2 linked regions of the Homo sapiens genome follow. The protein of the gene in region 2 purifies or fractionates together with the protein of the main gene of each other region. This does not show direct contact. Each region holds a gene or a part of one and is shown on either strand. Other genes may lie near its edges.

Region 1 (5,492 bases), on a different chromosome or scaffold from region 2:
ACTGCTAGGAGATGAGAAAGGTAGCTTAGAGCCCGATTCCATCCATGTGGACAGTGGTTCCATGAACAAGAACACCACATCTGGCTGATGGTGTCTTCCAATGGAGGGGTCAAATCTGCTGTGTGTTGGTGGCTTCTCCAACATACCATGGCTTGGAGGCCAATGTGAAAAGTATATAAGATGTAACACCCTCAGAAGGGTTAAGTTTTCACCTGAGTTTTCATCTTCAACCAAGTCATTGGGATGGTGATCTAGAAGGACCTCTAAGATCTAGAAGGATAAAGATCTGGTCCAAGGAGTACAAATATGTAATGGATCTACCACCAGTGTCCCCTGCTGTACTCTTGGCAGACATCACTAATCCATCACAGCATGCCTTCCCACTGATCACAGATGTAGCTTCAGGGCATTCGAGTTACCACTTAAGATGGATATGAGTGACCCTCCCTTATCTCACTCTTCTCCTTTCACAGAAGCAGGATCTGAGGCCCAGAGAGGGAAGCTATAATAAACTCCCCTAAGTCAGGTCCCTTCTAAGAGGCAGAGGTAGGTTTAGAACTCAGGCCTCAGAAACTTCCAGAAGCCAAGCCATTTGGGCTGTAGTTGGTGGACAGTCTATCAGCGCTCTGCAGATGTTTCTTCTCAGTTAGGGAACTTGGAAAATGCAGAAAGAAAGATTCTGTCTCTAAGACTCTGTGTATGATCCTACTCGGTAATCTGCCTGCTTGGAGAAAAATCATTTATCTTCTGGGACGGCTTCACCACAAGGCCTGAATGCTATGCCCAGTCTAGTAACAGCTGGGCTGGAAGTCACGGCATATGGGGGCCTTAAGGAATAACAGTGTGCGTGGTGGTGTGCAGGAGAGCTGCAAGGGCTTTTCTTTCTTGAGGAGGTTTGTAAAATTTCTGCTGTTCAGTCTGGGCTTCTGGGAAGTCAGGGGGTGCTGCATATAAAGGGCAGGAAAAGGAGCCTGACTCCAATTGCTCTTTGGTTTCTTCCCTGAATGGAAGGCTCAAAATCAAGTTTCCACCCAGATAAGATCTTGAGGTCCTAGTGGACCACCAGCTCTACTCCTGAGCTCTTGAAATACCTCTAATCACCAGCTCGGTGGCTGAGAGTACCTTCTTGTCCACTGCCTCTTCTTTTCCTTCTCGTCTTCACTTATCCCCCATCCAACTTCTGCCCGATAATATCTCCCCTGTATTGTAAACTGAGGAGAAAGTTGCACAATTGTAGAGATGAAAAATAGCTGCCATGTATTTAGCTTAAATTAGCTCAGAAGAAAGGCTCCCTCCCTCCATTGAGCGGGCAGCACTTGTTTATGCCAACATGCTATTTGCATCGCGCCTTCTTAAATTTGAAAGTCTAATGATTAAAAACAAATCTTAGTTTTTCTTTTCCACCACTTAAAAAAAAAAAACCAGCTTGGCTAGTTCTTCTAGTTTAAAAATACCCTGACCTCCAGCACTACAGTGAGAATTTTGGAAAGGCTGGTACCAGGATATCAGGAGGAAATAAATACAGGCCAACAATAACCAGAGGCCTTTTCTGAGTGGTGGGCGACAGGATGAACAAGGTAGAAGAGAGGTCTTTGTGTCCTCACACAGATGCTGGCATTCTGGGTTTGTCTGGAATTCAGTGAACCTCTGTCCTCTCTGACAGAGATTTCTTCACCAACCATTCATTCAGTGGGTGATTTGTTGAGCATCTACTATGTGTTAGACCCTGGGCATTCAGTGATGAGTGATACAATGTCTCACCTGTTCTGAAGCCTAAAGCCCAATGGGGAAGAGAGACAAGAAGCAAGTCAACCACAAATATATAAATTTGCAACTCATGTAGATCTATGGAAAGAAAACTCACGGGGGACCAGAAACATGGGAGAGGGTATACTGTGGGAGAGCTGCTGACAAAGGTCTTTCTGAGGAGGTGACATTTAAGTCAAGATCTAAAGGAAGAGAAGGATAAAGAGATGTTCATTCTAAGCCAGGGTTTCTCAACCTCAGTACTGTTGAGCTATTTGGGGCCAGATAATTCTTTGAGGTGGCGACTGTCCTGGGCATTGGAGGATGTTAAGCAGCTTCCTCAACTCTCCCCACAAGATACCAGTAGCACCTGGTACTGGTGACATCCAAAAACATCCCCAGACACACCCTGACTTTGCTGTCTGGAATCAATCCTCATAAAGCCCCAAGCCTTGGAGCACAGAGGCTGGAAGCCCATATGGTGGCATGTCAGGCATGGTGTCACCTGAGCTTCTCTGACCCCCACTTCTGATATGGCATCCAGTTTGGAGTCTCTGTTCTCCATGAGCTCCCATAGCTGTCCCATATTCCACAAGGCATTGCTTCTGGGCCACGGTCCTCTAGTTCCAGCATAGCCCTATTTTTGGGTATGTTGGTGGATTTCAAAAGCCTCCAGTTGACATCCAAAGTGTGACATCCAAAACCATCTCCAGACATTGCCAGATGTCCCCTGAGTTGTCTCCAGGCCACGCGACTAGGATTCAAATCCAGCATCCTGCCATCTGCAACCTTCCATGGGAGAAAGGAAATCAGAGGAGAACAGGAAAACACAAGGAGGGGACTCCTTAAGTGAACATTGCAGGGAAATAGGTTTTTAAAGCACTAGTTAGCATCACCAGTGGTTTGAAGGCTGTCTAGGTAAGGAGAATGTGGACTTGCCTTTCACCGTCTGCACGGACAGGGGCTGAAATCTCCAGTCATTCTCTCCATCCTTCCACAGCCCTTCTAAGAAGCAGATCCTCTTGCTGAGCTGAAATCTTGAGACTTGCATCCGGCAATCTTGGTGTTGCTTTCTGAGGCTACTCAGGGAAAGCCCTTCTGTATTCCCCAGGAAGGAAAGTCTCCCAGATAGTGAAGGGCCTTTTCTACCTTCCTTGCAATTCCCAGTTCACTGTGAAGAAGAGAGTCAGGCCGGGTTAGAATGGCTGTCTCTGGTAGCAATGAAGCAACAACATAGACAGTCTGGACAAGATGTGGCAGTTCTGTCCAGTCCCGTGTGACTGATTTGGGCATGGAGACAGGCAGTGGGTGAGGATGGCCTCTGTAGGTCCAGCTGTTTTACCCCTAGAATCAAATCCCTGGAGCTTCCGGCAGTCCCAGGATTGGGAAGGGTAACAGAGAGGACGAGTCGGGCACTGCAAAAGACCAGATCTTGGAAAATTGCTTTGGGAATTGGGACACCTTCCAAGAAGACAGTTGAGTTGGCTGGGGCTCTGCCCTAGATGGGGTCAACCTCTCCCCAACACAGCCCTGCCCAGGTTGGGGCATTGGCAGCTTAAGTGCGTCCTGGACAACAAATGTAATGTATTGGTCCTGTAAGATTCTAGCCATTTTCCTCTGCTTATTTTTCTACATGTGTTACAAGTAATAATGTTTAGATGGGTACATATGAACTTGTGTAAGTTCAAGTAACTGCTATGTAGCTACAGCATGGGCATCAAGGTACTCTAAGGTACTTGCCCTGCCACACCGAGGCCCCCTGCCCCGGCCCCCTTTCCCTCCTAGCCAGCCTTCTAGGGAGCACTGCACACCCTGCCCCTTCAAAGCTATCTGGACAGTCCTGGCTCGACTGGAGCATTAAGGGAGGGGCTGTCCTTGGTCAGGCTTCTGCCCAACTGTGTGATGCATAAATCTTTGCCTGGCTCCTTCTTCCTTCTTTTCGGAAGTCTATCTCCTCCTGAGGGCCTCTGCGGTCCTAACCTATCAAGGAATATCATAGATTGTACTCCCCACCCCATCAAAACACACCCTGACTTTGCGTCTGGAATCAATCCTCATAAAGCCCCAAGGCTTGGAGCACAGAGGCCAGAAGCCCATATGGTGGCATGTCAGGCATGCTGTCACATGAGCTTCTCTGACTCCACTTCCAAGATGGCATCCAATTTGGAGTCTCTGTTCTCCATGAGCTCCCATAGCTGTCCCATATTCCACAAGGCACTGCTTCTGGGCCCCGGTCCTCTAGTTTCCTCATAGCCCTATTTTTGGGTACATTGGTGGATTTCAAATGCCTACAGTTGAGCAGCCGAAGGATTCTAAGAAAATTTTGCTTGTATTTCAAAGGCTCATGTCCCCAGCCCCATTCACTACACCCTCAGCAGAGCCCAGCGTGGAGCAACCTTGTCCCTTCATTCCCCAAATCTTCATTTTATATAGTCATTTAGTAAATATTTGTTAAGTGCCTCCTGTGATTCTGGAAAAAATGGAGAAAAGTGGGTGCTGCCTTCAGGGTACTAGGAGTCCGATGAAGAGAGGGAGGAGTTCCAGTAGGGTCCCGAGGCCCCACAGGAGCTCCCAACCCAGAGAAAGACCCTCCAGGAAGGATTCTCAGAGGAGGAGACTTCTGAACCCTGTCTTGAAATTTGAGTAGAATGGTAGGGAACGGTGTGTCAGACAGAAGGAACAGCCTATGTGTGGACTCAGAGGCAAGATCATGATTTATTGAGGGTAACTGCAAGTGGCTAAAATCCTGCCCCCTGGCACTTGCCTGCCTTTCCCTGCTTTCCCCAAAGCCTGATTTTGGGACCCTGGAGTCTCCATCTCCAAACAGAGGGTGCCCTGGCTCAGATGTGGAGACCTTGACTTCTTTCCCCAGCATGCTCTGGTTCCTACTGTTAGCCTTGGTGTCCTGTGGGGGAAGATGTCTGAGGAGAGTTTTGTGCTTGCTGGAGTCAGACCAGTACTCAGGCCACCTCAGGCCTGCTCTGCATCCCTCTCTGGCTCTACAGACCTCTCTCTCTCTCTCTCTCTCTCTCTCTCTCTCTCTCTGTCTGTCTGTCTCTGTGTCTGTCTCTGTCTCTGCCTGCCTCCACACAGTGAAGGATGTGTCTCTATTTCTTAGTGCCCTGCATTGGGTCCTGAAGTCCATGGGCATCTTGGCTATAGATGGGTTGGCCATGAGCCCTTCTCTCTAATGCATTTTTCATTCCTGTTCCTCTTTTGCTTCACTTTCCCTCTATCGACTCTTGCGACCTGTGTCTCTGATGTCTCTGGGGCCCCCAGTTCTGTCTTGCCATACCAAAAAACCTTCTTCAGCAAAAAACCTCTTTCTGGGACAGTTCATATCACTCTATGAATAGGCCCCTGAAGTGTTGAGGTCAAGGACATGTGTGAACGTGGAAATGTATTTATGGAAAGACCCTACACTGAGGGTCTCTAACTAAACATTTCAGGTATGATGGGCAAAATGCTGGTTTGTTACAGAAATGACTGAAGAAGACCTAGGGGCCATAGTGGGCCACAGGCCAAGCCTGCAATACAGCCTGAAGTGTGGGAAAGAATGTATCAGTCCTGTTGATGGAGTGGTGTGTTTGCTGTCTCTATAAATATGTCAGGGTTTGAAAGACAGAAAACAAAGCATCTTTGCTGACCGCCAGACTCCCAGGGTATATGTGGCTACTGCAAATTAGCGAGGCTTGTTTATCTGCTTCAACTTGACTCAATTTGCATTTCTTGAGCCACTGTCTATT
Region 2 (5,492 bases):
TACTCACTCAATGGTTATGTCAAACAAACAAAGGAGCTGCATGTAACACAGCACGTTTGATCAAGCATTTGCCTATAGGGATGAACTTTTTCAATAGGGAAGAGAGGATGAAACTCTTGCCTCTACTCTTTGTGTTTTCTCCTTCTGAAAGGATATCTATTAGTTTAATATTCTTGGGCTCTCTGCAGGACACATTCTTTTCCCCGGGAGAGAAGAAACACCTTAATCCAATTTGTGAGTCTAGAAAGAGAACTGAGCATGCACAGCCTAGCTCCTTCTTTCCTGCTTCCCTCCTGAGAGCCAGGCTGACTAAAAAATACACCTTCTGTGTCTATTCCTCCATGTGATAAGCTTTTCAGAAGCAGCTTTGATCTGGAACAGCATGGTCTGTTACTATGGAGGTCAGTCTGTCAATGTAGGCTATGCTGAGGAAGGATGAGAAGTCTGTAGGTATTGATGAGGAAGATGGTACTGGCTGCCTTTAAACTGGAGGGCCACTGAGTTCCACCTGCTCTTTAGAGTACATGTGAGATTCTAACATTACAATGGCAGTACCTGGACTAGGCAGGCAGCCCTTAATTAGCTACCCCAACTTCCATTCTGCATCAGAGCTAAAGAGGGAATTGTGGCTTGAATTAATACGGCTTGCCCACAGGCTCAAGAGTCATCATCCCACACATGCAGTCTCAGTTGGTTTGGGACAGGTTAGTTACACAAGAGGGAGATCAACCTCCCCATTGGCCAGGTTTCACCGGTCTAAACAATTCAATAGCAAGTAGAAGAGAAACAGTCATGAGGGCACAGGCCTGAAAATGCTCGGCAGAGATGGCAAGACACCACACAAGGCATTAAGCAAAGCTGGCCCACCCTCAAAGCTGCATATCAAGGCCTGAATAGGTGATGAAAATTAAGAAGTTGTGAATATGTTGGATTGGAAAGAAAGGTATCTCAAGTAAGACCTGCTCAATGGGGCTGTCACCTCTGCCACATAAACTTTACAAGAAAGCATTAATATCAGAAATGTCATTCTCTGAGGAAAGTGATCATATACATAGGTGGCTTTCTCCCAAAATATAATAAAAGTGCCTGCTTTTAACGATATTTTCCGTGGAAAGGGACTTCCAGCAGCAAAATACTTGTAGCAACTCTCTATCCTCTCATGCATAGTGATTCTTTTGATGAGAATAAGGAACTAGGGATGTGTAGCTCTGCCCTTCCAAATTACACTTGGAGCAAACTGCTCATAGGAAGCACAGTTCACTCTGTTATTCCAATACTCTTGTTTGGCAAGAGCAGGATTTTCTGTGAAGGAGGTCTACCTTGGCCCAACATTGTCTGTGACTGGGAGGGGAAGTTCAGGGTTAGGAAGTGCATTTGCCAACAAATAAAAAGCTACATTCTTTTAACATCATTTATAAAGCAGTCTTTTAATCTCTCAATCTTTTAATCTTTTAAAAAAGATTTCCATGGATTCAGATCTCAGGTAGAAAATGAGGTTGTCACTTATTTGGTCCTCTAGAGAACCCAACACCTACCTCATATAGTTATGGTTAGGGTGAAATAAAATATCTTTCAGTAATGGTAGATATCATTATTATTCTCTAAGAACAACTGTTTTAGAAAACACTGACTCTCTTATACTCCAAAAGTACAGTGTTCTCTTGGGTGACCACAATGTTGGTAAACTCATTGCAGCAACTACCTCAAGATGAGAAAAAGATCTTAAGAAATCCTAAGTCTGGCAGGAAATGTACATGAGTTTGATCAGAAAGGATCGGAAGGGAACAGAGGCTATCTCCTTCAGCCTTTACCGTCTGATCTGCTCCTCGGCCACAGAGAGAGCATTCTCAGCAGCCACTCTTTGGTCTCGTTCTTCTTCCAGCAGCTTCCTTAATTCATTCACTTCCTGTCTGGTGTTGCATAGCTGCTGCTGAGCTTCAGAAAAGCTTTAGGATGAGAGGAAAACAAAAAGCATCATCAGATGCAGAAAACAGTTGCTAATACAAGGGATTCAAAGTCTTCATAAGGTTGTAAAGCAAGAAAATCCATAGAAGCTTGTCTAAACACAATATTTTAAAAGCAAAGCTGTAGAGGGATTAAATGAAGCTGCAGAAAATACCTAAAGAAATTTCAGGAACTGATTATCTTTCATTTTACTATCATAGAGTAGTTGTTAGTGGTGTGTGTGTGTTGGTGTTGCTCTTTTTGTTTTACAAACTTTTCACACACAAATGTTAGTTATTATTGTTACTATTTGATCCTCACATCACTTCTGTGAGGCTAATAAGATAACAAGACATATTAAATCCATATAAAGGACTCCAGTTAAATCTAGATTACTGCCCAATTTCTGGACTCTGGTGTATGCTCCAGGGTTTAGAGAGCCACTCCCCTACCTTTGCTGCGGTTCCCTTAGTTCCTCAGGGTCACTCTTTCTGTGAACTCCATTCTTTTCCTGGGGAGCTCCTGGAGCAACATCTATATTTAGTGGCCCCTGGAAGAAGAATAAGCTTAGTAATTCAGTGATGAAAGCTCTTAAGAAAGTGTATTTGAGCAAAATGAGAGCTCGTTTACAGAGGACTATCCCCGCTTATAATTCTCAAGTCCAAATTTAGAAGTGAGAAGCTTCTGCTCTAGCAGATTACTCACCTACATAAAACTCTTGTCTTGATTAGATTTTTCTCCCAGATTCTCATTCTTGAATTTCTCCTCTTAAAAGTTAAGTCTGGGCCGGGCGCCGTGGCTCAAGCCTGTAATCCCAGCACTTTGGGAGGCCGAGGTGGGTGGATCACAAGATCAGGAGTTCAAGACCAGCCTGGCCAAGATGGTGAAACCCTGTCTCCACTAAAAATACAAAAAATTAGCCGGGTGTGGTGGCAGGCGCCTGTAATCCCAGCAACTCGGGAGGCTGAGGCAGAGAATTGCTTGAACCCAGGAGGTGGAGGTTGCAGTGAGCCGAGATCGTGCTACTGCATTCCAGCCTGGGCGACAGAGCGAGACTCCGTCTCAAAAAAAAAAAAAAAAAAAAAAAAGTTAAGTCTGCTGTGGATGCTTATGGCTTTTCCAGAAGCCACTTTGATCCTTCCCTTGCTTGTCCAGCCCCTCCCAACCCCCTTTTCCTCCTCCGTATCCTATACGTCTCCATACTAATTCTCAGTCTCCTCCAACTTCAATGCTGTACTCCTCTCCCTGGCTGTCAACAGTGCTGCCTGTTTTGTTCTCAGATCCAAAGTTTCCTACAATTTTCTTATAACTTAAAGCAAAATCAACACTTTCTCTGTTTCAGAGTACCAAATGTCTCAGTCATCACTGTTTCCTACTCATGTTTTGATTTCTCTCCCACCATCTCACTGATCTTTTTTCTTCTAATTGCTTCACTGTAATTTTTCTCAGACCTTATTCCCATCTCAATTAACTCTTTCTTCTCTCCCACTTTCTTCCCTGACCCCTAATTACATTAACTTCTTCCATACTGCTCTGTAGTGCTTCACCACTTGCACTAAATTTCATCACACTTCTCCCAGTCTCTCACCTTCTCTTTACTCACCGCCTGCAGCTCTTGAACCTGCTTCTCCAAGACTGCACAGTGATTTAAAAGGTCACCATAGTGCTGCTGGTTCTCACGAAGACTCTGACTGGTATCGCAGAGCTGAATGGAAAGGGTGTTTTTCTCTTCCAGTAGCTGAGAGAACTGAAACAGAGGCGAGGATAAGCATCATCCTGCAGTACTGTAAGCAGTGCTGAGGTGAAATGTTCTGAGTTTTCAGGATCTAATTTTCCTATGGAAGACCTTTGTTTCAGCAACAGCAACAATAGCACTTTGTGTGCCTTCAAAGTTGGAAAAAGCATAATTTTTTTTTGACCAAGACAGAAAACAATTCTGGAGGAGTAGCAGAAAGGTTTTTTTGTTTTGTTCTGTTTTGTTTTTTTAAATGGTGCCCAGTACATTAACTGAAAAACCATGAAGCAGAAGTCCATAAGCAATCTAATTACATAGGCTATTCTGGGTACATAAGAGGGAGAAGGCAGTACCTCAGGGTCAAAGTTCATGGTACTAACAAATGACTATAATCTCCAGAACTCAATATGGCTGGAGAGAGCTGTCACCCCAAAATCTGTGCAATAATATTCCTAGGCAGATTCCTCAATGCCATAAAGAGTTATAAGTTACTGAGAGAATAGAATAAAAAATTATAATATGTGGTAGAAGGGAGAAACAGAATAAATCCCAACATGTATATGTATATGTCAGAAACTGTTGAGAGCATAGATTCTCCCAGGTAGAAACATTTCAGTCCCTTAAAGCAGGACTCTCCTCTACTGCATGACTAACAGGTCATCGTTCAGTCTTCCCTTGAACATGTTCAGTGTCAGGGCGCCCACTGCCTGACAAAGCAACCCAAACCATTTAAAAAACTGAAAATTCATTTTTATATTGAATGAAAAATTTACCTATTGTAGCTTCTACCCATTGATTTGAATTTGGTACTCTGGAACTATAATTCTCTCACTTGCAGGCTGTCAAGTTTTAAGTTTTAGCTGTGATTAGCCTCCAGGTACATTAATAACCATGGAGATGTCTCTCCAAGTTATCTACTCTAGGACCATGTACATTATATGAGAGGAACCCAGTATACCAGTTGCATGTTCAATTTTTTCTTGATGATTCTTTTTTGTAAGTTTTTGTGAAAAAAAGTTGAAACAAACAATGTTTTAGAGGAGAGACGACAGTTTTCTAGAGACAACTGTGAGGAAGGGCATTTGATGCAAATAGAAAATTAGAACAAGATAATCCATACATACTTGTAAAAGTGCTCTGTTAGCTGAAAATTGCTCTTCAGATGTAGGGTTGTTTTTTGTGTTTGTCATTCTGAAGAGCAATGTTAGCTTACAAAGTACTTTCACCAGTATCATCTTATTTGAGAGAGGTAGAGAAAGGATTTCTGTCCTTGTTTACAAATGGCTAGTAGATGTCAAACCAGGACTCAAGTGTGGTTCTTGATTCCAAGTCTAGAGCTCTATCTACTATCTGATGGTGTCCAGTCTGATAGTCTAGCAAGGAAAGCTAAGAAAATCATAGGGTTTTCTTTTGGGGGGGGGGGTGTGGGAGGAGGTGGGAATAGTTAGGAAAGGATATAAATATTTGGGAAGTGATACTAATTTGAAGACAGTTAACTGGGTACAATGACAACTATTGGATTCTGAGACAGGGCACAACATGTTCTTCCCTTAACCTAAGAGGAAGTTAATTTTCCTGGCCACAATGAACAGTCCAAACCATACCAAAAACAAAAACATAGATCCTTCTAGTTTAGGGGTTGGCAAACTATGATCCAGGGCCTGCTGCCCTTTTATCATAAATAAGGTTTTACTGGAACACAACCAGCCCAATTGATTCTATATTGTCTATGGCTGCGTTTGTGTTACAACTGCAAAGATGAGTAGTTGTTAACAAAGACCATACAGTCAACAAACCTAAAATATTGTCTGAG

Evidence for each region. Proteins that work in one complex are often made in the same cells at the same time.
Region 1: the proteins of GOLGB1 (region 2) and KSR2 purify together in Homo sapiens (co-immunoprecipitation; one large-scale study listed by IntAct). This does not show direct contact.

The regions. Positions count from the first base shown.
Region 1 is NC_000012.12:117,454,334-117,459,825, reverse strand, and holds part of KSR2 (kinase suppressor of Ras 2), read left to right. Parts: 3' UTR 1-5,492. UniProt on the Homo sapiens protein: Location-regulated scaffold connecting MEK to RAF. Has very low protein kinase activity and can phosphorylate MAP2K1 at several Ser and Thr residues with very low efficiency (in vitro).
Region 2 is NC_000003.12:121,665,665-121,671,156, forward strand, and holds part of GOLGB1 (golgin subfamily B member 1), read right to left. Parts: intron 3,692-5,492; coding exon 3,548-3,691; coding exon of another isoform or gene 3,533-3,547; intron 2,495-3,532; coding exon 2,397-2,494; intron 1,947-2,396; coding exon 1,812-1,946; intron 1-1,811. UniProt on the Homo sapiens protein: May participate in forming intercisternal cross-bridges of the Golgi complex.